7 separate regions of the Homo sapiens genome follow, and all the other regions are linked to region 2. The links come from fine-mapping of genetic effects on gene expression. A gene starts in region 2. Each other region holds a variant in brackets. All regions are shown on one strand. Distances are between the middles of the regions.

Region 1 (4,067 bases), 24 kb after region 2:
TGGGGTCCTGTTCGTTGCTGGCAGCTTTTTTTGGGTTGTTCATTTCCACTGCATAGCACTAATAGCTTTTTCAGACCTCTCCTGGGATGTGGACTATTTTGTATTTGTAAGACACCTTTATGGAAATGGCCTCCAGGTTTAAAGTGTCATGTGACCACTTGTTCAGTTGGAGATGACCGTGCCAAGGCCTCATTCATCGGAAAGTGAAAGTGCGTGGCCAGTAACTGTGACATTGAGAATGTCCTTGTGGCACTGGATGTCTCTGCAGGACTCAAGTGAGGCTGGTTGTATGAAATAATGTCAGGGAAAAAAATAGGGTTTTTTTTTTTTTTTTTTTTACTGATTCTAATGATTGTTCTGCTAGCACTTTAAAGGCGAGTGAAAGAATACAAAGGAAGTTCAATTGTGTGGCGACAGGCTAAGAAAAGAGGAAAGGAAGGAAGTGTTAAGTTTGAAAGCTGGGGGGTTTTGCCCTTCCAAAGCAGTGGCATGGGATCCACCCAAATGCCAAGTTCTCATCCTCATCGTCAGGGTAGCAGGCAGAGAGGGGTTTCCAGAACCATCATTTGAACCCTCACTCTGTGCCGGCCACCCTTTCACTGTCTAATTCTTATAACAGTGCTATGAGAAAGTGATGATTGACTTATTTTGTAGTTTGAAAAACTGACTCTCTTGGCCGGGCACGGTGGCTCACACCTGTAATCCCAGCACTTTGGGAGGCCAAGGTGGGTGGATCACAAGGTCAGGAGATCAAGACCATCCTGGCTAACATGGTGAAACCCCGTCTCTACTAAAAATACAAAAAATTAGCCGGGCATGGTGGCGGGCACCTGCAGTCCCAGCTACTCTGGAGGCTGAGGCAGGAGAATGGCGTGAACCTGGAAGGCGGAGTTTGCAGTGAGCCAAGATGGCGCCATTGCACCCAGCCTGGGCGACAGAGCAAGACTCCGTCTCAAAAAAAAAAAAAAAAAAAAAAAAGAAAGAAAAACTGACTCTTAGGGAAATGACGTGGCTTGGCCAATGCCACACTGCCCAGAGACTGAGTCATTATTTAAACTCAGGGTTATCTGATGCTAGAGCCAGGCTTTCCCCTTTCTGCCACCCACCTGCTGGCAACAGAAGGCAATCACATCAGTGACCATGGCAAGAAGGACCTGTTCCGTGTCCTCACTCTGGTAGGCACTGCTCTTTTGTCACTTAGGAGATTCTTCCAGCTGCTCTTCCTTGGTGTCCAGTAAGTAAAACTGACAAGAAACAGAACAATCTCTTGTAGCAAACTGAATTCTCTATGACATACAAACTTGAAGAAGGATGCCTCCAAAGATAGAGTAGCTGATGGAAGACACTATAAAAAGAAAGTCCCCTGTAGGGAGGAAGAAAGAGGCCGGAAGGAACTGGCCAGAGATGTGAATCACCCTGGGTGCTTAACCATGAAGAGCCTGAGGAGGCCCCTGTGTTTGTTTCCATGGTTCCCTACCCACCCAGCAGAACTCATTTCCTCTGTGGCTCTCCCTGATGCTTTGAGCGTTCCTCTCACTGCTCTGATATTTGTTGAGTGTTTCCACGCGATGGTATATAGTTAAGATTACGTTCTCATGCCAATAATAACACAAACACATGCAGTGGCTTAAACAAGACAGGGTTCATTTTTCTCTCATGTAAAG[T/G]CTACAGGTTGGCCATGCAGGAAAAGCATGGCGGCTCCCTGGTGTTGTCAGGGACTCTGGCTCCTACTTTCTGCTCTCCTTTCCTTGCTTGCGGTTTCTTTATTCAAAGTCACCTCACGGCCTGAGATGATACCTGGAGCCCTTCATAGGTTGGAAGAAGGAGGAAAAACAGAAGGGAGGAAAGGGGCCTTTCCCAAATGAATCACCTGCTTTTAAACAGCCTTCCAAGGAGTCCCAAATAATGCTTCTCCAAATACATTGGCTAGAATTTATTCACGTGTCCATATTTGGCTGGAAAATATAACTGTATTTTGGAGGTTGTTTGGCAGCAATGTGCACATCTAAAATTTTATGGGGACATACTGATGGAAGAATGGTTATTTTAATAGACAAAAGTCAGCAAACTGTGGCCCACAGGCCAAATCTGGCCCACCGCCTGCTTTTGTAAATAAACTTTTATTGGTACACAGCCAAGCTCATTCATTTTCATATTTTCTATGGATATTTTTGTGTTACAACAACAATTAAGTATTTACGATGATAGATGGCTTGCAAAGCCTAAAATATTTATTATCTAACACTTCACAGCAAAAGTTTGCTGACTCCTAGAATAGACGAACAGCAAATAGTAATTTGTGGCAAATACCCCACCACCAGGCACTGGGCTGGGCACAAAGGTTCATGGCTGTGGGTTCCATTCTTAGGTGGCTGATAGTCCAGGGGATGAGACACAGCCAAGTCAAATTCTAACTACAGTATTGTGTGACGAGTGGAACTGTTCCATTCTGTTTAGTATGTTATGGGACCACAGAGGACACCTGAAACAGACTGTAGAGAGGGAGGGTAGGCAAGCTTTCTAGATGAGCTTAAAGGATGAGAAGTTAGAAAAGAGAAGAGCAAAAAGAATTCCAAGCAGAGGAGAAAGCATGTACCAAGATTGGAGGTGTGAAATGGCAGTCATTATGCTTTCATCCCACTGTGTGTCATAGCAGCCCATGAACCTGTCTCCTCGAGAGACCACACATCTTTGCCTCCCCCAGGCCTGGCACCAATGTGTGCAGGGCCTCTTCCTTGCAGGGGCTCCAAACACTTGTCAGCTGCTTACATTGACATCATCCGCAATCCTGTTACAGTAACGCCTATGGGTACCAATCCACTGACCCAGAATTTAGAGTGGGTGGGGATAGAGTGGAGGGACACTGAGTTCCAATTCCAAGCTTAATTATCAACAGATAAAAGCAAGGGCTTTGGATGAAAATCTCAACCACTACTACTTCGTACCTTGCATAAGCTTGGACAAGTTGCTTAACTTTTCTAAGCTTCATTTTTCTTCATCTATAGAAGTGAAGATAGTGTCACGAGCACGTATAAGTTTTCTCAATCTCCATGCTATCGGCACTGGGGGCTGGATAATTCTTTGCTGTGGAGGGCTGTCCTGTGCATTGCAGGATGTTCAGCAGCATTCAAGGCCTCTACTCACTAGATGCCAGTAGCAGCCCTGGAGCTATGACAATCAAAACTGTCTCCAGACATTGCCAAATGTCCTTGGGGGAGCAAAATCACCCCTGCTTGAGAACTTATCAGCTAGTAGTAGAATTAAATGAGATAATGTTTTATATGTGTGTTTAGTAAGTGTGAAAACTATTTTTATTGTCTTCATTAGTACTCAGAAAATATTTGAAAGGACAAATGAACTCGTGGAAGAAGAATGAAAACCTCATAGAAACTATTTCTTGTTTAGGCTGGCAAACACAGGAAAGGAATTCTTAGCTGTGATAAACAAAATTTGCTGTTAAACCCACCTGTTGCAAATCCACATTATGTTAGGAATGTTGGCTGAATTACTTTCAAATGAGCTGCAGGGGACATCTGTTATAGTTTTATTTTTTATTTTTTTGAGATGGAGTTTTGCTCTTGTTGCCCAGACTGGAGAGCAATGGCACAATCTCGGCTCACCGCAACCTCCACCTCCCGGGTTCAAGCGATTCTCCTACCTCAGCCTCCTTGAGTAGCTGGAACTACAGGTGTGTGCCACCACGCCTGGCTAACTTTTGCATTTTTAGTAGAGATGGGGTTTCTCCATGTTGGTCCGGTTGGTCTCGAACTCTCGACCTCAGGTGATCTGCCCGCCTCGGCCTCCCAAAGTGCTGGGATTACAGGTGTGAGCCACCACACCTGGCTGGACATCTGTTATTTTGTTGCCTATTTCTACCTTGCTTGATTTAGGTTTGGGGAAAACACCTACCCCCACTTTCAGCCATGTGCTTTGCGTGAAGCTGACCTCTACATTGGTTCCAGTGGTGAATCACTGGAGTAAGGTCCAAGTCACCCAGGGAAGTCCTTTCTCCGGCTCACAGTGGTTAGTCTGAGAGAGGGAACAGGCTTGAGCCAAGGCCCAGTCAG
Region 2 (4,067 bases):
ACATTAAAAAAATAATTTCCCCCACCGCTCCCAATTCCCACCTCCAGCCAGCTCGCGCGGCTGGTTTTATTTCCTCTGGATGAATAACACGGGGCCCTGGTCTATCTCTAGGCACCAGAAAATCCACATCCGAGGATCAGGTTATCCCCAGTCCCACCCTTTGCAGGAAAAAACCAGGGTGTTGTTCCCCGCCCCCACGCGCGCGCGCGCACACACACATGCACGCGCGCACACACACACCATCTTCACAACCCTTCCAAGAGAAAACCTAGAGTGTGTGTCCGTTTGGGTCTGGGAGGGCAGGATACAGTTATTTCGGGGGCCCCAATCTTGCCTTTAGGCTCAGCTGGGAGAAGGCGGGGCCCCTGCAAGGCTGCCCGGGAACTTCGGCCCCGCGCCCCGCGGGAGGGCTAAGAGAGGGCACGCACACCTTTACCAGCTTCGGAACGGCCCAATTAATAACTAATTTGCTCAGATACCCCACTCCAAGTAGACCTGACAGCCAAGGAGGGACTGGCTTTCCCTCTCAGTCTCCTAGGCTAGGGGACTCCTTCCTGCGAGCGGGCAGAGCCCCCACTTCCTCCCCACCACCGCGCCAGGCGCCCCCACCCCGTGCCCGGAGGAATCAGGTGTCCTCCCGGGCATCCAGCCCCCGCGGGTCCCAGACACTTACTTCAGGGACAGACAATGGGAAAACTTGCAGCCAGTGCCTTGAGCCCCCGAGGGAAAGAAATGGTGCCGCCCCCTGGGACAATGAGCGGGGGAGATGGCGTGGGACAGCAGACACCCCCCAGAGAAGCCACCCGCCCAGTGACCCCGCAGAGCCCGGAGCAGCGCCCCGGGTGAGCAGGTGACACTCCGGCCGGGAGCTCCCGCAGGTGGCCGGTGGCCACACTGCAGGGAAGGGCCGGGTGCCCGGCCCGGGGTGGAGGCGAAGCGCGGCGGCGAGGTCAGAGCGCGGCGGCCGGCGCCGCAGCCGCACCCCCGGCGTCCTACCTTCATGTCGCTGATGATGGTCTGGAAGAGGCCTCCGAGCGCGCTGCATTCCTTCTCAATCACAGCCTCCATTTTCCCGGCTCCGGCAGGGCGAGGGCACACACGCGGGGCCGCTGGACTGCGCGCGGGGCCGGGGCTCGCTCACCCCAGAAGGAATTTCACCTTCCGAGAGACCCACCTCGGACTCGCAGCCTCTTCTGCAGCGAGGACGGGGTGCACCAGACCGACTGTTCTCTGCCCAAAATAATAACAGTAATTTAAAAAGCCAAACCGCTCTGTAGGGTATTCGCCTACAAGCAGCGCTCGGCTCCTGGCCTTAAAAATGCCGGGAGAAGACTGACAATCAGGCCACCACTGGTGCCCACTACGGAAACGGCAAAGCCCATCTTGATGCAGAGAAAATCGCCCGCTGACCCGGGGCCAGCGCCATTGAAAAACGCAAGATTTTCCAATTTAATAAATTTTTCTGCAATTAAAAAAAAATCGCCCAACAGCAGAGCGGGTCAGCTCGCGGCGTCCGGATCTGTTGCTCGCAGCTGCGGCCGCCGCCTCCTTTTCACTCCTGCGCGCCCGGCCCCGGCGCTCGCTCTGGCTGGGCTCCCGGGGACGTTCGGAGGGGCGCACGCGCGCTCGCGGCCGTGCCCGCCAAGCGGAGGCGCGCTCTCGCGGCCGTGCGGCCGCCGCACGCGGGCGGGGCTGGGAGCGCGCGCCCGAGAGGCGCGTGGGGCACCCGCCGCAAAGAGGAGCCTGCTGGTCTGCTGGCGGGCAGGCGGCGCTGGGCCGGAGCCTCTCCCTCCGGTGCGCACAGCGCACCCTCTCCTCCCCCGGCCGCCCGTCGCAGCGCGGAGAGGGCGTGTCGGCACCCTGCCTGGCGAGCGCCCACCCCTACAATGGCTGCGAGCGCGCGGGACGGAGGGTGCACCGCCGCTCCCCGGGGACTTGCACGGGTGGCGCGCCTAGCCCAGAGCCCGCTTGTAGTGAGCGCTCAGTAGGGCGGGAAAGCTGCTGCCGCTACTGCGGCCTTCTGAGAAGACGCCCATTCTCTGATGTCAGGACTGCATCGCCGAGTCCTGATTGCAAATAGCGAAATATATAATTAAGGAGAGTTCGGGGGCGTATCCTGCAATGGGATGCCGAGTTCGATAAAGTTGCAGGATGCTGGGAAAGTGGATTGATTTGCTGTTGCTAAATGAATGGAAACAGCGTTAGAGCTTCTGTCCACGATCCATCAGTCTATCGAGATTGCTGATTGCCTATGACTTGGACGGTTGATGGTTTTCAGGCCCACTGAGAGCAGCCAGCGTTGGTATAACCGCAGGGAGCCCTCCTGGGAGGTTGAACCTGCAGAGCGCAAATGTGCCCAGGTTGATTTGGGGCCTAGTGGTCCATTTTCACAGCTCCACTGCCTATCTGCATAACCAGGAGCCCTCATTCAGATGAACGCCAAATGGGCCAGAGGGAGGAGAATCAAATGAGCAACTTTTAAAAGATATTAAGACATAGGCACCTAACTCCGGACAGTTCCTTTAACCCTTGAGCTAACCATTTGAAGCACAAAACATAACAAAAGAAAAGACTGGGGGGAGTGGGGCCAAAAGAAACCAAGTGCAAAATTCTGTACACTTGTGTCAGATTCACTCCGTAATGGGAAAAGGTCTGGCTTTGAAAACTTTATGGATCAAAGGGATGCATGGAGTTACACAGCACAGCTGCAGAAGATAATGTTCCCCTGGATCACTCTGCCCAACTCTTAACTGCAACCCACCTTCCCCATCCGTCTCCCCGAAATCACCCGGAAGGGTGTTACCTTCAGGAAGTAACTGATCTCTTGATCACCCCTGCTGGATCCTGTCCCCAAGGGCGTTCGAATGCATCCGACTCATCTTCACCTTGCCAATAACGGGTGCTTGACACATCGTTTGCTGCCAATCATTATTGTGATTTTAATACTATTGGTATTCTAACTATCAAGATGACTGCTTGTAGAGCCAGATTGCCTGGATTCAAACTCCAGTTCACAACCTACTAACTGTATGCCTTTAGGTATGTTACTTAACCTTTCTGGGCCTCAGTTTCCTCATCCATCTGTAAATGGGGATAATGATGGCTTCTACCTGATAGGGCTGTTCTGAACATTACATGAGCTGATCGATGAAAGCACTTCAAGTGGTACCTGGCATCTCGTAAGTAATCATTCGATAAATCTTATCAACAGAAGAAGCAGGGATGAGGCCAAGGCTCAGGTCCAGCCCTGGCCCCATTTCACTTCTGTAACATTGGTGTGCTGTCCCAGGCACATTGCTGAGGGTCTACTGTGTGCATTCTGGGCATTTTATACGTATTATGTCTACTTGAAGGAAATTATCATTCTGGTCCTTGTTGCACTGTTGGAAGGAATCCAACCCTGGTTTTCTGACTTCCATGCCCCAGGTCTCTCTTTTACCCAGCCTCCTGAACTCCTGGGATAAGGGGCCTTAGCCCAGTGGACACTTGGTCTAGCTTTCCTGCCACATGCTTAAATTTCAATGCCCCAAATACCCCAACTTTAGCAATGTTTGCCAAAGCATACCTCTCTTGTGGCCTTTTTCCCTGGGCCTGACCACCAGGCCCTTGTCTCTCATGAGAACTCCTTGAAAGGGAGGCTGGAAAAGTGTTCCCAGATGCAGGAAAGTGGGAGTGACACCTGGCAATTTTTTTTTTTTTTTTTTTTTTTTGAGACAGGGCCTCACTCTGTCACCCAGGCTGGAGAGCAGTAGCGCGATCTCGGCTCACTGCAACCTCCACCTCTCAGGTTCAAGCGATTCTCCTGCCTCAGCCTCCATGTTGGTCAGGCTGGTCTCGAACTCCTGACCTCAGATGATCTACCCGCCTCGGCCTCCCAAAGTACTGGGATTACAGGCGTGAGCCATTGTGCCTGGCCAGCTGTCATACATTCTTTCCTTGTTTTCAGATTCTCCTTTGTTTCTGGCTGTTGGGGACTTCCCTTCTTTTAGACTGGCTCTGCATATATTTAAAGAGATTCTGATTACATTTTACCAACTGTGTCTACGTGGCTATGGCAGGAGGGGTTT
Region 3 (4,067 bases), 65 kb after region 2:
TAATACAGAATCCACCTTTTGTGGCTGGTTTCTTTTGCTCAACATTATGTTTTTGAGATTCATTCATGTTGTGTGGAGCTATAGTTTGTTTACTTTTAATTACCATGTGGATTTCATTCTATGACTATTCCACCATTACTCTACTGTTGATGGATATTTGGGTTGTTTCTGTTTTGTTTTTTGCAACTACAAATAGTGCTGCTGTTAATATTTTTGTACACATCTTTTGATGGATATATTTACATACCTCTGTTGAGTATATATCCAGGAGTAGAACTGTTGAATCACAGGGTAAGTGTATGCTCAGCTGTAGTAGATATTGCCAAAGAGTTTTTCAGAGTAGTTGTATCAATTTATACTTTCACCACCAGTGCACAAGTGTTCCAGTTGCTCTATATCATCAGCAATCCTTTGTAATGTCTTCTTTAGTATAACCATTCTAGTGGATGGATATCTTTGCAAACAAGGTATTCAATTCACCATTGTTCATAACAGCAAACAAAATGAAACAATCCTGGAAGTGTTTAATGACATGAAAAGATGCTTATGACATACTAAGTTAAAATAAATGTATAAAACTCTATAAACCCATTTAAAAAAAAAGCAACAGAAAGAAATCTATACATCGCTCTCTTCTTTACCTTCTATCTGTATATATCCTTAGCATGCTCTGTTTCCTCTGCTTGAAATGCTTCTCCCCCAATTATTTTCATAGATGCTCATTCCTATATTTCAGGTCTGGTGTATCATATACCTGTTGACCATTTGTATGTCTTCTTTTGAGAAATGTCTATTCAGATGTTTTACCCATTTTTAGATCTGATTATTTGGGGTTTTTGCTATTGAGTTGTTTGAACTCCTTATATATTCTGATTGTTAATCCTTTGTCAGATGGGTGGTGTGCAAATATTTTCTCCCATTCTGTAGGTCATCTCTTAACTTTGTTTTGCTGTGCAGAAGGTTTTAGCTTGATGTAATTCCACTTGTCTGTTTTTGCTTTGGTTGCCTGTGCTTTTGAGGTCTTACACAAAAAAATCCCAGACCATGCCAGGCGCAGTGGCTCACGCCTGTAATCCCATCACTTAAGGAGGCCGAGGTGGGCCATTCACTTGAGATCAGGAGTTCAAGATCAGCCTGGCCAACATGGTGAAACTCTGTCTCTAATAAAAATACAAAAATTAGCCAGGCATGGTGGTGGGTGCCTGTAATCCTAGCTACTTGAGAGGCTGAGGCAGGAGAATCGCTTGAACTCGGGAGGCAGAGGTTGCAGTGAGCTGAGATCGTGCCACTGCACTCCAGCCTGGGGGAGAGAGTAAGACTTTGTCACAAAAAAAAGAAAAAAAAAATCTGAGACCAATGTCCTGGAGCATTTCTTCACTATTTTCTTCTAGTAGTTTTATAGTTTCAGGTATTAGACTGAAGTCTTTAATCCATTTTGATTTTATTTTTGTATATGATGAGAGACGGGGGTCTAGCATCATTCTTCTGCATATGGATATCCAGTCTTCTCAGCAACTTTTATTGAAGAGACTGTCCTTTCCCCATTATATGTCTTTGACACCTTTATTGAAGATGGATTGGCTGTAAATGCATGTATTTATATCTGGGTTCTCTATTCTGTTCCATTGGTCTATATGTCTGTTTTTATGCCAGTACCATGCTGATTTGGTTACTATAGCTTTGTAGTAAACTTTGAAGTCAGGTAGTGTGATGCCCCCACTTTGTTCATTTTGCTCAGGATTGCTTTGGCTATTCAGAGTCTTTTGTGGTTCCATATAAATTTTAGTATTTTTTTCTATTTCTGTGACAACTGTCATTGGTATTTTGATATGGATTGCATTGAATCTGTAAATTGCTTTGTGTAATATTGTCATTTTAACGATATTAATTCTTCCAATCCATGAGCATGGAATATCTTTCCATTTTTTTGTATTCTCTTCAATTTCTTTAATCAGCATTTTATAGTTTTCTTTGTATAGATCTTTCACTTTTTTGGTTACATTGATTCCTACATATTTTATATTCTTTGTAGCTATTGTAAATGGAATTGATTTCTTTTTCAGATTGTTCACTGTTTATGTATATAAGTGCTACTGATTTTTGTATGTTGATTTTGTATTCTACAACTTTACTGAATTTGCTTATCAGTTCTAACAATTTTTTGGTGGAGTCTTTAGATTTTTCTAAGTATGAGATCATGTCATCTATAAACAAGGCTAATTTGACTTATTTCTTTCCAATTTGGATGCCCTCTATTTCTTTCTTTTGCCTAATTGCTTTGGCCAGGACTTCTAGGACTATATTGAATAAAAGTGGTGAAAGTGTACATCCTTGTCTTGTTCTAGATCTTAGAGGACAAGTCTTTAATTTTTCCCTTTTCAGTGTGATGTTAGCTGTGGATTTGTTGTATATGGCCTTTATTATTTTGAGATATGTTCCTTCTATACTCA[G/GT]TTGATGATCGTTTTTACCATAAAGGGATGTTGAGTTTTATCAAATGCTTTTTTGGCATCTATTGAAATAATCATATGGTTTTTGTTCTTGGTTCTGTTTTATGTGTTGCATCACATTTATTGATTTATGTATGTTGAATCATCCTTGAATCCCTGGGATAAATCTCACTTGCTCATGGTGAATGATCTTTTTAATATGTTGTTGAATTTGGTCTGCTAGTATTTCATCGAGAATTTTTGCATCTATGTTCATCAATAATAATGGCCTGTATTTTTCTTTTTTTGTTGTGCCTTTATTTGGTTTTGGTATCAGGGAGATGCTGGCCTTATAGGATGAGTTTAGAAGTATTCTTTCCTTTTCAATTTTTTTGAAGCATTTGAATAGAATTGGTATTAGTTCTTTAAATGTAAGGTTGAATTCAGTAGTGAAGCCATCAGATCCTGGGCTTTTCTTTGATGGGAAACTTTTTATTATGGCTTCAATCTCATTACTCATTATTGGTTTATTGAGGTTTTCTATTTCTTTTCTCTTTTTTTGAGACACAGTCTCACTCTGTCACCCAGGCTAGAGTGCAGTGGCGCAATCTCGGCTCACTGCAACTTCCACCTCCTAGGTTCAAGCAATTCTCCTGCCTCAGCCTCCCGATTAGCTAGGATTGCAGGTGCCCGCTGCCACAACTAGCCAATTTTTCTATTTTTTCAGTAGAGACAAGGTTTCACCATATTGGTTAGGCTGGTCTCAAACCCCTGACCTCAAGTGATCGGCCCACCTTGGCCTCCCAAAGTGCTGGGATTTTCTATTTCTTCATGGTTCAATCTTGGTATGTTGTATGCATGTCCAGGAATTTATCCATTTCTTCTAGGTTTTCCAATTTTTTGGTGTATAGTGGTTTATTTTTTAAATATTTATTTATTTATTTATTTTTGAGATGGAGTTTCACTCTTGTTGCCCAGGCTGGAGTGCAGTGGTGCAATCTCGGCTCACTGCAACCTCCGCCTCCCAGGTTCAAGTGATTCTCCTGCCTCAGCCTCCTGAGTACCTGTGATTACAGGCGCCTGCCACCACACCCAGCTAATTTTTTGTGTTTTCAGTAGAGATGGGGTTTCATCATGTTGGCCAGGCTGGTCTCGAACTCCTGACCTCAGGTGATCCACCCACCTCAGCCTCCTGGTGGTTTATAATAGTCTCTAATAATTCTTTGTATTTCTATGGTCTCAGTTGTAAAATAATATATATAGCTTTAGGCGTACCCCTTAAGCTCTTATTGTTTCTCTCATCTGTTAAATCGGAAAATTGCAAAATAAGGAGAACAATATTAGCCTAACAATGTTATTGTGAAGATAGAATGAAATACCGAATGTGAAAGTACAGTGCTTTGAAAACTGTGGCTCACCATACAAACGTGAGTTAGGGTTCTTGTGAGCAGATGACAGAGAATCCACCAGACTCCAGCTCTCTGAGACACCTGGCACATTGTCCCCTGAAATTTTACTTGCAAAATCAATTCAAATTGGCTTCAATACAGACTCTTCCTCATGAACTGAAAGTCAGCCAAAAGACACTGAACAAAGAGCCGCAGTGATTATTACCATCTCAAACAACAAGCCGTGTTTACC
Region 4 (4,067 bases), 99 kb before region 2:
AAAGTACAGAGCAGGTCAGTAATACAAACAGAAACCAAAAGTTTGCTGAGAACGGGTGCTTCCCATCCCAGGCTGCGAGTCTGAGCTCCAAGACATCAGCCGCGTCAGTCTTATCATCCGACTCCCAGATCATACTCCCCAGGACACGGCACCAATTATCTCTTCCAATTAAACCACCGCCACAGGATGCTAAATCCAGTGATATGAACCGGCAGCAGGATGCTTGCCCAGCCCAGGGCTGGCATTTATGATCCTTATTAGCAGGAAAGCTCTGTCTTCTGCTCCCCACGGCTCAGCTGTGGAACCTGGAGCTCCCACCAGCCCCCACAGCAGGTGCTCTGGGAAGGGGCAGAAGAAAATGATGGCAGGACTTGGAGAAGCCAGGACAGCAGAGTCAACAGTTCCAACTCCATTGGGGAACTTTCCCCATCGATGACAGCAATTTCCCTAACATCTAATTATAGGCATTTTGTCAGCTAAATAATAAGTTGCATGGATTAAATGCCTACAGTGAGCCAGGAACTCCAAGAAGTACCTTGTGTAATTTCATCTAATCCTCGCAACAACCCTCTGAGGCAATTCTTCATTGCCCATCCTCATTTTAAAGATGGGGAAACTGAGGCTAAGAGAAACCTGCCATAGGTGGGTAGACCTAGGACTCAAAGCCAGGTGGTGTCTAGCTCCGAAGTCTGCACTTCTTCCATTACACCACAGCAGACCCTGAAAGTAACACACACGGATTTTACAGGATCCCAAAGTATCTTCAGGGAGGTTTTATTTCCCAAGAGGGTCCTTGGGGCAGGAGGGAAATGAGTTAATCATGAGAGCTCACAAGTGCTGGGCACTCATGAGCCAGGCCTAGGCCTAAGCTCTGTGTACACATTCATTCATTCATTCATCTTCATTCTTTCAACAGCCCTGTGCATAAGCACTATCATCACCCCCATTTTATAGATGAGAAAACTAAGGCTCGAATTAAGGAGATTAAGCCACTTAAAGTTACACAGCTAAGAAATTCTGGAGCTAGATGGCCAGGCGCGGTGGCTCACACCTGTAATCCCAGCACTTTGGGAGGCTGAGGCGGGCGGATCACAAGGTCAGGAGATGGAGACCATGCTGGCTAACACGGTGAAACCCAGTCTCTACTAAAAAAAATACAAAAAATTAGCCAGGTGTGGTGGCGGGCACCTGTAGTCCCAGCTACTTGGGAGGCTGAGGCAGGAAAATGGCGTTAACCCAGAGGTGGAGCTTGCAGTGAGCCAAGATCACGCCACTGCACTCCAGCCTGAATGACTCCGTCTCAAAAAAAAAAAAAAAAAAAAAGAAAAGAAAAAGAAAAAAGAAATTCTGGAGCTGGATACTTAGCTATAGCGGTACCTAACTCTGAAGCCCGAGATCTGACCTCTCCCTAAAACAGACCTGAAACACGAGTTCCCACATCCCTGGTTGGTGAGACAGCCAAGTGCCTCCAACGTTAAGTGGCCTCCTGTCCTGCTGGAGGCTGGACAGGTAGTTTCCATCGTAACACACAGAGGCCACAGCCTGCCTGAGGGGAGGGTTCTCTCTCCCAGACACCACACCACAAGGCCACCCCCCTCCATCTGGGAAGAACCAGGGGCCTTTCCAAAGTGAATCATCC[G/A]AATAACCAGTCTTTATCATTTTAACTGTCATCTTTTAAAAACATATCACACACACCGTGCGTTCTTAAATGGAGCTACTGCCCAGTGGCTGCTGACTCATCACCCTGTAAAGAATTGAGTCGCTGAGGACAGATGTGGCAAGGCCAAGCCAGCTGCGTCAGCCCCGCTTGCTTAATCCTGTCTGAAGCTTCTTGAAATACTTCACCTGCTCCATGGAATATAATTCATCTTGTAAAATTGCTTAAAACTTTTAGACCAAAGGCATTTACATTTAATTAAATGACCAGGGAGAGTTAACTTCCCTCTACCTCCCCTGGAAGAGGTCACCTTCAGAAGTGACCTATTTCCTCCCTGAGCCCAAAGAGGTTGTGGACCCTAAAGGGCCCCAGTCTAAGCCCACCCCATGCCACTGGGCTGAATGGGGGCCACCACATCTTTTGGCAAGCCATCCATCAACAGAGTCACCAACAGGCAAGCAGCCTGGGCTACCCGAGCAGACTGTCAGCCACATGGGAGGAAAGGTGGGGGTGGGGTGGGAGCAGGAACAGAGGGGAGGACCTGAAAGAGGAGGTGGAGAAAGGCTGGGAGGAAGAAGAGGATGAAAAAGGCCACTTGTGACTCAGGGGGCCTATGGGCCAGCAGCAAGATCATGGAGCCCCAGCACTGCCTGACCCACTGCATCACCGCCCACATTTTTAACAAGGCTCCAGGCCATTCACAGGCACTGGACAGTTTGAGAAGCACTGGTCTACAGCACAGGCTTTGGAGTCAGAAACATCCGGGTACCAGCCCCAGCCACACTACTCACTTTCTATGTGACCTACAATGAGCTACATAGCCCCAACCTGCCTCCACTGTCTCATTTGTAGGGCAGTACCTACTTACAAGGTGGTTTTAAGAGGAAATTAAAATAATGCAAATAAAGTACTTAGCACAAAATCTAATACAAAAAAAATGACCAGCTGGCTCTGCTATCAACACATAAAGCTTAGAACCCAAGTCACCAGATTCTGCCTCTCATTACTTCTCATCATTATGGAAACCTTTGGAGGCCTTTGGCCATGGCATTCTGAACCTGCTTGGTATATTGCAATGCTGTGCCACCTACCAGCATGTTCCTAAATACACATGTATTTAAGGCAGCATCATCACTGAGATAAAAAGTTACCAACTACACCTGGAGCCAGAAACATGTGTATAAGAAAGGGAAAATAAGGAGGACTGAGAGCACTTGAGCATTTCATTGGCCTGCACCCTGAGGATTCGCCCTTGAGCCTGAAACATACACGCAGCACAGAGGTCAAAGGCAAAGAGTAAGGAATCAGCAGCTTTGGGAAGGTGGGGCACGGGGACAGGCCAGGTCTCCTGGACTCGGATTCCAGGCACGCTGCCACAGCTGGGTGCTCCCGAGGACAGCACAGACAAAGGTCACTACCTTGACCCACCAATCTCCCTAATGACACAAAACGCCCTTTACTTCCAGAGCCAGCAAACACAGCAACCTGATTTCACAAGACATGAGCCCTTCTGGACCCTAAAGAGTACGTCCACGTGCTAGGAAAAGACGAGCGCTACACGACAGTCCCGACACTGCTGCACAGCTCAGACCCTGTCCTGGCCCGCAGGCCACTGCCTCCTCAGAACTCTCCTTTTCCTCCATGCTCCCAGGCTTTGTTGGTGACCTCACCGTGCACCAGACCTTAACTCCTGGTCAATGCCACCCTGCCCCTCATCTCATCCTGAGTCTGAGCATCTCTGGCACTAAAATTTCTCTGATCCCCTCCATAGTCCACTCACTTCACTCCCAAAGCCACCATTCAGGTTCTGACTATGAAAGCCCTCGGGCCTGCCAGCTTCTGTCTCTCCAATTCAAACTGCTTTTAGCACCACTGCTTAGCCAACCTCCTACAGCGGGTCTGATCCCATTGTGCCTTGGGTGGCTCTCCACTGCTTACAGAATCACACCCACGGCCCTCCAAAGGCAGAGGCAGCAAAGCTCAGGCTTCCCCCACTGCCTGTCCACCCACTCGGCTCTTCCACTGCAGCTACTGGAATAACAGATCTGAGCTTTGGGCCTGCTGCTGATGATGGTGGTTGTGTCATTTGGTTTTTAACAGAAAGCAAAGAGAAAGAGGAGAAAAGTTAAGGAGCATCCGGGTGCAGTGGCTCATTCCTGTAAGCCCAACACTTTGGGAGGCCAAGACAGGAGAATCGCTTGAGCCCAGCAGTTTGAGACCAGCCTGGGCAACATAGCGAGACTCCATCCCTTCAAAAAAATTTAAATAATTAGCCAGGTGTGGTGGTGCATGCCTGTAGTCCCAGCTACTTGGGAGGCTGAGGCAGGAGGATCCCTTGAGCTTAGGAGTTCAAGGATTCAGTGAACTATGACCATAACCACTGCACTCTAGCCTAGGAAGCAGAGTGAGA
Region 5 (4,067 bases), 46 kb after region 2:
ATACTTTAAGTTCTAGGGTACATGTGCACAATGTGCAGGTTTGTTACATATGTATACATGTGCCATGTTGGTGTGCTGCACCCATTAACTTGTCATTTACATTAGGTATATCTCCTAATGCTATCCCTCCCCCATCTCCCCACCCCACGACAGGCCCTGGTGTGTGATATTCCCCTTTCTACCATCGAACTTATAAAAGGACCTACGTATGTGTCAATTCTCTTCTGTTTTTTTTCTTGTTTTACAGTTTTAGTACAAAAAGGAGTAATTTGGTAGGAATCTTTTTAATGTATTGCCCTTGTACTTTGAGAGCACCAAATCCTGACCACTAGACCACTAGGGATGCTCCTTGACTTTGAGTATGTTTTGTCAAGTGCTTGGCATATGGTAGGCGTTCAATAAATGAACGACGACAATAAAATTGCGGCACGGTCTCGCCATCCTAGTAGCTAGATACAGACTTTCCACAGAACTTAAGATGATGGTGTGATGGCATTCTTAGCAATTCTGGACAACTCATATTAATTAAAACATTTCACTCCATGTTTATAAAATATTTCTCTTTATAAAAACATTAAACAAGTAAATATTAAACAAATGTTATAATTAAAGAACACACTTAGGGACTTCAAAAAAATTAATTAGATTTATATTTCAGTCTCTTCTCAGTAACTTTAATTCTCATGATACTTCATCTTTGTCTTCTTTTAATCCCCATAGAAATGACCCTAGTTTTGATTTGATTGAGTGCTACCTAGGTACCTGGTGCTGTCCACTCAATGTATGATCTCATTTACTTTTCCCCGGGAACTCTATGAGGTAAGTTCTATTAATATCTCCCTTCAAAGACACAGGAACTAAGGCTTTTTTTTATAAAGTAAATGGCTTTTCCGGCATCTCACAGCCAGATAATGTAAAATCCAGTCTTGGAGCCCGAGGTCATGTTCTATCATTTGTCTCTGCTTCCTAGGTTAGTTTATTACAGAAACTCTGTACATTTCTTTCAGATATTAAATTTTAGTTAAAAGTAAATTCTTACTGATTTTCCCTACTCTTACCCAAATTCAACACATACTGATTGCATATTTACTGTGTGCAAGGCATTGTGCTAGCGATAGTGTGGAGGACATTTAAATGTGCAAAAACTGGGGAACTCCTGCCAGGATTTTCTGCTCTAGAAATGAGCTGGGGATGGTAGAAACATTATTTACCTCACTGTAATACAAGACAAGACCAACTAAGGTGAAAACAAACATTCGTTGATATTCTATTATGTGTCACGAACCTTGGATACTTTATGTGCATGATCTCAGTTGATTTTCTGGTTTTATGGAGAAGGCATCAGAGGCCCAGTTTTCTTAATCATTTGCTCAAGGTACACATGTAGGAAATGGGAGAATCCTACTGTATTACTCAGGGTTCTCTAGAGAAACAGAACCAATAGAAGAAGTAGAGATATATAGAAAGAGATTTATTATGAGGGATTGACTCACATGATTATGGAGTCTGAGAAGTCCCCTAATTAGCCACTGTAAAGATGAAGGCACAGGACAGTTGATGGTATAGTTCCAGTCCAGGCCTGAAGGCCTAAGTACTGCAGAAGCCAATAGTCTAAGTCTCAGTCTGAGTCCAAAGTTCTGAGAACCAGGAGAATTGATGTCTGAGTGCAGAAGATGGATATCCCAACTCAAGCAGAAAAGAATGTGTCCTTCCTCCACCTTTTGGCTCCATTCGGGTGCTCAATGAATTGGCTGATGCCTGCACACACTGGTGAAAGTGAATCTTCTTCACTCAGTCTCCTGATTCAAATGCTAATCTCTTCCAGAAATACCCTCACGGACACACCCCAAAATAATGTATTACCAGCTATCTGGGCATCCCTTAGCCCAGTCAAGTTGACACATAAAATTAACCACCATACCAACACACCAGGATTTGAACCTTGGCCTTTAATGCCTACCTCAGAGATAAATACAAGTTCAAAGGGATGAAACATCACTTGAGTTTTAGGGGATGAGCAAAAGCATGATTGAAGGAGGGATGGCATTTGGAATCACTGAAAGATGGAAAGACTGAATCAGGGATCAAGTAGAGAGGGCATTCCAGTGGAGGAATAGCAATGTGAACAAAGGGTAGAAGCTGCACTTGAGCTGTATGTTGGAAGAAGGGTAAAGAGTGTATCGAATGGAGGGTAGGATGTATGCAAAATATGCAGGAAATATGCTTGGGGGGTGGCAGTT[T/G]GGCTTCCACCAAGGAAGACTTTCTCTTGATAGGTGATGGGAAGATATTAAAGGTGTGGGGCAGACCAGTGATGTAACTAGGGCTGCTTCTTAGGAAAATTAACTTATGAGCTTCAGGCTGACTCATAACAGATGTCACTCCTGCTGTCCTGGACTCCAAGCTGTCTTTTTTTTTTTTTTTTTTTTTTTGAGATGGAGTCTTGCTGTCGCCCAGGCTGGAGTACAGTGGCCTGATCTCGGCTCACTACAAGCTCTGCCTCTCGGGTTCACGCCATTCTCCCTCCTCAGCCTCCCAAGTAGCTGGGACTACAGGCACCTGCCACCACACCCGGCTAATTTTTTTTTTTATTTTTAGTAGAGACGAGGTTTCGCCATGATGGCCAGGCTAATCTCGAACCCCTGACTTCAGATGATCCATCGGCCTCAGGCTCCCAAAGTGCTGGGATTACAGGAGTGAGCCACCGTGCCCAGCTAGCTGAGGGTGGTTTAGACTAGGAGGTCAGCCACTCAGCTTTGTCTCAGAACAAATCACTGAATCCCGATATCCTGTCCTGACTCTGTTGGCCTCCATCAGCCTGAATTGTATTGCCCCAGCTTATCTCATCTATTCATTCATTCCAGTGTTTATTGAACTCCACGTGCTGTCAGACATTGTGCTTGGTGCTGAAACTACAGGAATGATACGCCACAGCCTCTCCCCTCCTGAGCTCACAGAGAAGCAGGGTGACACTTGATGGCAAAGTGATGAGATCAGTGCTGGGAAAAGCCCAGCAAAGTGCTGTGGAGACTGCGGCCCCGGGAAGTCTACAGGGAAGGCTTTCATGGCAGGAAATGTAGGCCTTAGCATAAGAGTTCAGTTTTCCATAAGAAAAAAAAATGGAGTGTCCAAGATTTACACCCTTTCTTGAAGGAACTAGAAAGGGATGCAGTGGCCCAGAGAGGAGGCAGTCTTCCCTTCATGACTCTCTGCAGGCTGAGGATAGCTGCTGAGGCAGCCTTGATTCTAACAGGATGCCAGCTAAGGACGGTACCAAAGTGGAGCAGTCACTCAGGGCCACAGCTGGGCCACAGGCCGAGGGGTCCCTACTGGGAGGGGAAGGGAAGGGTCCCAGCCAGTTGCCCTTGGCAAAAGGCAGGGGTCAGTCATGTTGGCAGCACATCAGAAATTCATTAAAATAGTTGAATGGACATAAGCATTCACAGTCTCTTGGCAACAAGACCTTCCTTCTTCCAGTTCTAGTCTGTGCCCAGAGCTGGGATGGATGGATGTGTGTGGCGTGGGTCAGGAGGTGGGGTGTTAGATGTACCCGTCTTTTGGCCTGGTTTTGGTAGAAATTCAGTGGCTGGGGTGGGGAAAAGGCTTTTCTCCTGCTGGCAGCAAGTTGGGTGACCGCTCCTCTCTGTTGGATTCCTATTCTCCTTGCTGCCTGGGGTACCACTCCGGGTCTTCGGGCTGGTCCTGCAGCTTTCACTCGGCAGACAGACTCTGTGTGCCTTCTGCACTCTGAAGACAGAGGACAGCCCTCCACAGTGACTTCTGACAGACATTTCTGTTTTGGAGCTGCTTCCTTTGGCATTTGACAAAGTCAGCAGATGAACACTGTTTTCATGGGTCCAAGGAATTTTGGCTCCCAAGGGGATTTTATAAGAGTCCACTATCTTTTGGTTGTTTTCCTTATTTTTAAGAATAATATGGGCCGGGCACGGTGGCTCACACCTGTGATCCTAGCACTTTGGGAGGCCGAGGCGGGAGGATCACGGGGTCAAGAGCTCGAGATCAGCCTGGCCAACATGGTGAAACCCCATCTCTACTAAGAATACAAAAAT
Region 6 (4,067 bases), 33 kb after region 2:
TAATCACGGTAGTAGCACTTTGGCCTAGTAATAAACATCCAACTCTTAGCCTTTTTATTACACTGCTCTTTCAAAGAAGCATTTAGCTAATGTTATCAGAGAGAGGGGCCTGTTTCCCCTCAGAATGCCTCTGAGGAGTACCTTTTTATTGCCCAGGGGTGGAACATTCTCAGCTTCAGCTGTAAATCATAGAGTTGCCAACTTTTATTGAGCTCTTTGCAGGGACCAGGCCATGGGCTCAGGGCTCAGGGCTCAGGGCTCAGGTCTTTCCTGATTCTCTCATTTCATCCCCACAGTCACCCTATGAAGTAGGTGTTATTATTCTCATTTTACAGATAAGGAAACTGAGTCAGAGCTGTTAAGTAACTTGCCCAAGATTACATAACTAGTAAGTGGCAAAGCCAGGACTCGAACTCACACCCCAGGGTATCTGACTGCTAACCTGTTGTATTAGTCCATTCTCATGCAACTAATGAAGACATACTCGAGGCTGGGTAATGTATAAAGGAGAGAGGTTTAATTGACTTACAGTTCCACATGGCTGGGGAGGCCTCACAATCATGGTGGAAGGTGAAACGAACGTCTTACATGGCAGCAGGCAAGAGGGCATGTGTAGGGGAACTCCCCTTTATAAAACCATCAGATCTCTTGAGACTTATTCACTATCATGTGAACAGCATGGGAAGAACCCGCCTCCATGATTCTGTTACCTCCTACCTGGTCCCTCCCACAACACGTGGGGATTATACAATTCAAGGTGAGATTTGGGTGGGGACCCAGAGCCAAACCATATCACCCGTGTTGCTAACTCTCACACCATACTCCCTTAGCCTTGTGTGATGAGCTCTGGACTAGGTGCTGGGCACAAAGACCTGGGGACCGAGCCTCGTCTTTTTTGTGGGCGTTTATGCTTTTCTATGTTCACTGAGTGCTTACTGTGTGGTCAACACCATGCCCAACAGTTTTTATTGATTTATATGCATTTTCTAATTTAATCCTTAAAGCAAACCTATGAGGAAGTACTATTGCCCCTACTGTCTTTGTGAGAAGGTCAAGCTACTCACTCAAGGAGAAGGTAGGATTCCAAGTGCAAGTTTGCATGACTCTGAAGCTTGTTCTCACCCAGTGGACCACCCTTACTGGAATCTAGCAGTGTAGACAGAAATGCAGATTCCTGGGTCAAACGCTGGATCTACTGAATCACAGTCTCTCGCAGTGGGGCCAAGAAATCTGCTTTTCTGCCAAATATCCCAGATGGGCGCAGTGTGTGTTATGTTTAGAACTCACTTCTCTATCATGATGCTGGCAATGTAGACATTCCATGTTTTGAAAATTCATGGATTGTACGTTTCTGATTTATGTACTTTCCTTTATCAATCTTATATCTTAAAAAGTTTGCTTAAAAAGTCCCCTCCCATGTAGGACACAGTCTCTTCACTATGAACACTTTGCTTCTTTGCTAGTCTATCTCACACGTCATCACACTGTTAAATTTCCAACTGTAATTCGCATGGGACACCACGGCGCACTGGGCCTGAAAAACCAGGCTATGAGAATGTCCTGGAATCACCTCCTTCCTACCTTAACGCAATCACACAAAGGTTACCGGCAGTTCTCATTTTCTTTTCTCCAGATAATTCCTCCAAAATAGATTACCCAAGTGCCTCACTCTGAAAACTTCCATCGTGTTCTCTCAACCCTGAAACCCAAATCAGTACAAAACGGTCCCTTGGGGCCATCCCTCTTGACTAATTCTCAAAGTTTCCACCACCAAGTTGTGGGGTGGTACCGGGAACTTCTCCTTTTGGGCTTATTTGGCCCATGAATCACTCTTTGACTAACCTCGTCAGCTGTTGTTTTCCCCGCAACACTCGGTGAGTGTTTTTCCTCCTCTTCCACCTTCCTTGTCTTCTTTTGGAACCTCTGTAGAACCTTACAACAGAAATATCTCTTAATCTTCAACCTCTATTGATTCATCCACTCATTTATTCTTTCACTTACCTATTTACAGACATTTATTAAGCATCCACATGTACCAGGAACTCTGCTAGGGGCAAGAATTTAGAAAATAAACAAGAATGTGGGCCCTTTCCTCAGGGAACACAGTGTTTCCAAGTCACTTTTGACAAATACTTCTGGAGCTGACTCTTTTAATAATAATGGTCTTGCTGTTGATGATATTTTTGAGCCTTTTCTTCATGGCAGAACCTCTAATAGTTATTTTAGATGTATTGCTTAATATTCTCAACAACTTCATGAGGTAGGTACCACTATTGTCTCCAAATAATACAGATGAGGGAATCGAGGCCCAGAGAAGTCGTATCACTTTCCCAAGATCACACAGTTCATAAGGGCTGAATTCTAGAGCTAATCTGGAGTCTGACCCCAGAGACAGGCCTTTTTAATTACCACAGGCTCTCTGAGCCCTACAAACCATCCA[A/G]TGAGAAGTGTCAGAAGTGCAAGGAAAATAGACAAAAGAGAGAAGAAGAAAGATGTTAAACAAGACTCTGGTGAGAACATAATTTTACCCTGGTTGACTCTGGATATAAGGGCATCTGAAAAGCACATTGGCTATAAAAGTGTGTTTCCAACAGTCCTAGAGCCATCCTTTCTAAAAGATAACATGTTCCCCAAACCATAGAACCATAAAATCTCAGTGTTGGGCAGGATCTTGATGTGGTATAACCCAAATCCCACTACATGCTGAATCTCTTTACAATCTCATCATCAAATCTGAAACCTGTCAGCCCTTGGCTTCCATTCATCTGCGTAAGTTCTGAGTTGTGGGAAAGTAATGGCAAAAACTGCAATTACTTTTGCACCAACCTAATAGCTTGATAGTGGTAATCATTTCCCAATGTATATGTGGAATATGATGAGGTTTCTCTTCAAATAATCTAATCAATCTTTTATTCTTTAATTTATAATAACGCCCCCCCCCCCACCTTTTTTTCCTTTTTCTCCTTTTTTTCCTTTTTGCATTTGTTAGATGCCCAGGCACGCCACAGGACAGGCATTATCAGTACCAGCTCACGTTCCTTTCCTTATTTAAAAAGAAGACTAACTTTCTAGCTCATTACACACACCCCTTCCCCTTCCTCTCCACTTTCTTTTACGTGCCCACCTTACCTAAAAAAATTCAAACGTTTAGCCAACTGGGATTATTTTAAATTATACAGCCTGACCCCAGCCAATGGGGAAAGAGTGCAGGGGCAAGACTTGCCGTCAAAAATAAAGGCTCTCGTGCCCTTTGTTCAGGTGGGCTCTCATGGCGACTAGCCAAGGAGGCACCCCTCTGCCCAAAAATAAAATTGCTTTGCTAAAAATCCTTTGTTCAAGTGTTCAATTTCCTTAAAATTTTTTAGCGTTATTCCTAACACATACATATTTCAAAAATCACATTCTACAACTTGAATATATACAGTTTTTGCTGTTTAGATTTCAGTAAAGCTAGGAACAAATGTTATGCTCTTTGGGATTTCTCACGTTCTTTGATTCATATGTCTATACCTGAGTCAAATTCACTTGTTCATCAGTTAAATCACAAAATACTATGTCATGGATCTTCCACATCCTCAGAAATACCACAAGTGGCAGGGGCTTCAATTCACACAGGCCAACAGTTGTCTCCTTCAAGGATCTCAGGTGCAAATGTCTTTGGGGTCAGTCAAGTTACATGAAAGAATGAAGTAGGCAGGGGGTAAGAACCGTGATGAACCAAACAGCACGCCTTCTGGACAATGATTGCCATGTGGTACTATAGGCTCCGTATTGCCAGATCTTTCAATTTGTCAAGAGAAGCCAGAAATCTAATTTTTTTTTAAATGTAAACTTTTCTGATTTTTAAGTGTTGAAAACAAATTCCAATTTTTTTTTTTTTTTTGAGGTGAAGTCTTGCTTGGTTGCCCAGGCTGGAGTACAGTGGCGCAATCTCGGCTCACTGCAACCTCCCGGGTTCAAGCAATTCTCCTGCCTCAGCCTCCCAAGTACTTGGGATTACAGGTGCCTGCCACCATGCCCAGCTAATTTTTCAATTCCAAATTTTAAAATCTGGTGTAGGCCACCAT
Region 7 (4,067 bases), 160 kb after region 2:
TCACTTGAGGCCAAGAGTTCGAGACCAGCCTGGCCAACATAGCAAAACCCCGTCTCTACTAAAAATACAAAAAATTAGCTGGGTGTGGTGGTACATGCCTGTAACCCCAGCTACTTGGGAAGCTGAGGCAGAAGAATCACTTGAATCCAGGAGGCAGCTGAGGTTGCAGTGAGCTGAGATCGCTCCACCGCACTCCAGCCTAGGTGACAGAGCAATACTTTGCCTCCAAAAAAAAAAGACCCATTTGCCAAATCAGTGGCAGCCTCCAGTGTGCCTGAGACCAAGCTAGCTGGCTCTAATTCAGATCCAACTTCTGACCCAGCAGCTACAATTGAAATAACACCTTTGCAGGAGTCCACTATCATCCCGCAGGATGCATCTAGACTTTGGAGGAGGCAGATGAGAGAATTAAGTGGAGTCATGGTCAAGAATCGCGCTTTTAGGCCTTTAAGGGTAGCACTAGTCTCTACTGTCCCCCCAGGGACACAGTATTAATTTAGTTAACCATGTTGGCTGTCGGGAGGTGGCAATTTCAAGAGCTTTCTCTTGGTCTTACCCACTACACTCGCTCTTACTTCACAAACCAAAGAACCAACGTGGGTGCTCAGTGACTTGCCAAGTATACCCACTCAAATTGTACATTTGGACTGGAGAAGTGGCCACTAGGTTCTTCTGTGGACCCCATGGAAACATAGTGAGCCAGACTCGATTTATTACCTGGTAACTCAGGTCCCAAATCTACCGGCAGGAACATGTCAACCCTTCAGGTCTTAAATATCAATGATATGTTGGACCCTATGTCCAGTAATCCTTGAAATATTCAGCTGTCTCCCTTTCCCCTGGGTGTAATTACCTGAGTAAATGGCCATAGATCGCTTTGGGAAAGGACTGGGGAAATCACTGCCAGATATGTTTGCCATGGTGTCGCAGGACCTTCCTCCTGGGTACTCGGCCTCTCTCTCAGTCAATGTGTTCTGAGTTTGAATATAGGCTTAGTTCTGAAAACTGAGCAAGGGATCTTTACTTTGTATTGGGTTAGCTGCCCTTAACGTCCTGATTGTATATTGAGCAGTATCCTCCAAGTCTGTCCGTCTCTCTTGCTCCTAAGTATGCCTTATTTTTTTTGTTTTGACACAGAGTCTCGCTCTGTCATCCAGGCTGGAGTGCAGTGGTGCCATCTTGGCTCACTGCAACCTCCACCTCCTGGGTTCAAGCGATTCTCCTGCCTCAGCCTCCCTAGTAGCTGGGATTACAAGCGCCCGCCACCACACCCAGCTACTTTTTGCATTTTTAATAGAGACAGGGTTTCACCACGTTGGCAAGGCTGGTCTTGAACTCCTGACCTCAGGTGATACACCCCCGTCGGCCTCCCAAAGTGCTGGGAACATAGGTGTGAGCCACCATGCCTGACCAGTATGCCTTATTTTTTTAGCCATCCCTGCTCTAGATGGGCCACCGCTAAGATGATCACCATCCTGGTTTGCAGAGACTGTCCCTGTTTTAACATTGAACATTCTACCTCCCTGGAAATCCCTCAGCCCTGGGAAAACCAGAATGGTTGGTCACCGTGGGCTCCCCCAAGCCCTCCTAGGACACAATATTACTTTGCCACTAATTATAATAATTGCATGGATCTTACTTCTGTTGGTTAAGCACTATCTGTCCTTTATTCTTTTAGGATTCTCTCATTACCAGGAACCCAGTTTGGTTACTACATCTCCTACCACTAGCTGTGGTCTTCAGAGGAGGGCTACCACTGAGCTTCTCAGAAATACCAGCACCCTAACACCAGAGCATTTCTTAGTACTTTGCTAGATAGAGTTTCCTCTCTGCAGGAGGTTTTCAGGCCTTAAAAGTATATCCATTCTAGCATGTCCTCTTCTCGGATATTTTGACTCCTTCCAAATCTGCCACCATGACCTGGCATTCTGTCACCTGGTGTTGGCTAGGCTTTCTCAGAGCTTCCCAGGACCATTCTAGCAGTATGGCAGCACCATCTTTCACAGTCCTTGCCACGATGTTAAATCCCACATTATGATAGAGTGCCCCAGTGCTGATAAGCACTACCTCAGCCAGCTTGAC[A/G]TTCTGATCCTCTGGACCCAGCACTCTCAAGATCCAGTCCTATTCCTTCTTGCTTCTGACTGTACGTGCAGACTGTGCAGACCATGTCCCACACCCAGCTCACTTGGTGGATAATGCTATTCCTTCCTTGCTGGACCCAGGACTTCCCTGTCTGAGTTACATTGTGACAAACCTCGTAGCTCCTGATCTAGTGCCAGGAGGGAGGTGGAGGAAAGTCCTGGGGAGAGAGAGTTACAAGGTAGAGGCCTCTGAGTCATCTTGTGAGCGTGGGGAGGAGAACCTGGAACAGGGAGCTGTGGGCTGCGTCTGCAGGCCCTGAGGGCTCCGAGTTATCTAGAGACATTGGCATAGATATCCCCACTGCATCTCAGGGCCCCATTTTTTCTCATTAGATCCTGACTTTGCCGCAGCAGTTCTGCTCTATTCGGGAATGTAAACTTCTTGAGAATCTGGCTACTTTTATGATTAATCCTGGTCCTTATCCTCAGCTCTATCTTCTCTCCTGGCTTCAAGAGTTTCTTGTATGCTGACAAGAGGCCCTCTGGCTTTCACATTTAGCCTTTAATTGCTGATAAAACACCTTCAGCCTCTTATCATTGAGGGTCTTTTTTTTTTTTTTTTCCTGTTCAAAAGGATCTGTTTTCTCCAACAACAGCCATCCAATTCTATTGTGTCTATACTACTCTGTCCACAAGCTTAGCCTGATCTATTGCTCCCACCTGGTGTACTATCCCAGTTCACCACTGGGGACAGTGTCAATTGCATTGGTGCACATGACAGGGACTGCTGTTGCTCTACCTGCCACCAGTGATGGAGTTCTCAGAGTCTCTTTCCTAAGGTCATTCCTGGCACCAACTGTCACAGGTTAGGTTTCTGGGGAAACGGACGTCGAGATGGAAACTCACTGGGGGAAGGGGGGAATCTCAAGATGAACAACCTCAGAAGGGAAAGAAGCAGGACTGGGCAGAGGGAGAAGGTGGCCTGTGTTACAGTTGCAACAAAGGCTGTCAGTGGATCCCACAGGGATCTCTGGAGCTGGGATGGCCCTGCCTTGCAGCAAAGGGAAACAAGCATTTATACCCCTTCATTGACCAGTCACTGAATGCAAGGTGCCCCAGGAAAGGAGCATAACCTTTAGCCAGGTAGCTCTCTTTGTGGGGTAGGGGTGGGGACACACGACACTCCCAGCATCTCTGGGCATGAGGGCCTCCGTCCCAAAGAGGAAATTTGGATAATGCATCCCAGCCTTGTGCCTATTGAATGTGCGGAACATGAGGGAAGGCAATATTGAGGACACTTCTGAATTTAGAACTGGCGAGATCTTCCATTTCATTCACTTGAACTAATGCATATTTGGTCACTGTGGATGTAATAGTGAAAAAGCCAAATCTCAACTCTAGAGGTGCTTCTGGTTTGGTGGGAGAGAATGGCCATAAAAAGATCAAAAGGCCAATAATGTGGGGATTGTTGGCTCTACCCTCTCATTTTATAGAAGAGGAAACTGAGTCTCAAGGAGGCAAGATGACTTGACACAGTGTCTAAAATGAGTTGACAGCAGGTATGAACTGGGACCCCAGCCTCGCAATTCTCAGGCTAGGGTCTTCACCCCAGCCCCACAGTGTCCCTGTTACGCTTTGAAATTGTTCAAGGTCACTCACATTTTTAAATGCAAACAAAAGAAAATAATTAAAGCTAGAAGATGAAAGATTCCTCACTGCAATTCAGGAAAACTCACTTTATAAGTCTAGATTTTCTATTTGAGTTCTCATCATTGATTCAACTTGGATTCCCCTAATGGGAAATCTAATCTAATGATCCATTCAAAGATATTTTCTACCATGTTACTGAAAGCTGAAGAACTCTACTGGACAGGTAGATTAAAGGGGTTTAATCTGTTGACTTTCAAAATTTGTTTCATTCTGAATACTTGGATGGGGGACTATCATTTTTGAGCATAGCCTATCTCTTGTTAGGAGAACAGGTCA

Direction of the effects. Alleles are on the strand shown, and positions count from the first base shown. SD is a standard deviation of normalised expression in the study named. Not every link is listed here.
For the expression in subcutaneous fat of the gene that starts at base 1,586 in region 2, G is the high allele of the variant in region 7 and A is the other (small effect, 0.15 SD a copy in GTEx).

Evidence for each region. PIP is the estimated chance that this variant, and not a neighbour inherited with it, causes the effect.
Region 1: its variant is the best candidate, but not a certain one, in a credible set for the expression of MTSS1 in blood mononuclear cells (TOPMed, PIP 0.82).
Region 3: its variant is the best candidate, but not a certain one, in a credible set for the expression of MTSS1 in whole blood (TOPMed, PIP 0.55).
Region 4: its variant is the best candidate, but not a certain one, in a credible set for the expression of MTSS1 in whole blood (TOPMed, PIP 0.53).
Region 5: its variant is the best candidate, but not a certain one, in a credible set for the expression of MTSS1 in whole blood (TOPMed, PIP 0.55).
Region 6: its variant is the best candidate, but not a certain one, in a credible set for the expression of MTSS1 in monocytes (CEDAR, PIP 0.85).
Region 7: its variant is the best candidate, but not a certain one, in a credible set for the expression of MTSS1 in subcutaneous fat (GTEx, PIP 0.53).

The regions. Positions count from the first base shown.
Region 1 is chr8:124,750,631-124,754,697 of GRCh38, forward strand. The region is part of intron 2 of LOC105375741 (a long non-coding RNA gene); the gene reads left to right. Among named protein-coding and RNA genes, the nearest start is that of MTSS1, 24 kb to the left of the region's middle. RefSeq lists an enhancer at 1,166-1,707. The variant T/G (reference allele first, on the strand shown) is at 1,665.
Region 2 is chr8:124,726,888-124,730,954 of GRCh38, forward strand. MTSS1 (MTSS I-BAR domain containing 1) reads right to left here and starts at 1,586. Exons shown (of 14, transcript NM_014751.6): 1 at 997-1,586. The coding sequence starts at 1,068. LOC105375741 (a long non-coding RNA gene) reads left to right here and starts at 1,652. Exons shown (of 3, transcript XR_002956670.2): 1 at 1,652-3,179.
Region 3 is chr8:124,792,293-124,796,359 of GRCh38, forward strand. No RefSeq gene overlaps it. Among named protein-coding and RNA genes, the nearest start is that of MIR4662A, 28 kb to the right of the region's middle. The variant G/GT (reference allele first, on the strand shown) is at 2,451.
Region 4 is chr8:124,628,204-124,632,270 of GRCh38, forward strand. All of the region lies in intron 3 of MTSS1 (MTSS I-BAR domain containing 1), which reads right to left. Among named protein-coding and RNA genes, the nearest start is that of NDUFB9, 91 kb to the left of the region's middle. RefSeq lists enhancers at 83-142, 173-222, 1,396-1,445, 1,605-1,899, 2,106-2,175. The variant G/A (reference allele first, on the strand shown) is at 1,640.
Region 5 is chr8:124,772,837-124,776,903 of GRCh38, forward strand. No RefSeq gene overlaps it. Among named protein-coding and RNA genes, the nearest start is that of MTSS1, 46 kb to the left of the region's middle. The variant T/G (reference allele first, on the strand shown) is at 2,241.
Region 6 is chr8:124,760,296-124,764,362 of GRCh38, forward strand. No RefSeq gene overlaps it. Among named protein-coding and RNA genes, the nearest start is that of MTSS1, 34 kb to the left of the region's middle. The variant A/G (reference allele first, on the strand shown) is at 2,441.
Region 7 is chr8:124,886,098-124,890,164 of GRCh38, forward strand. No RefSeq gene overlaps it. Among named protein-coding and RNA genes, the nearest start is that of LINC00964, 54 kb to the right of the region's middle. The variant A/G (reference allele first, on the strand shown) is at 2,083.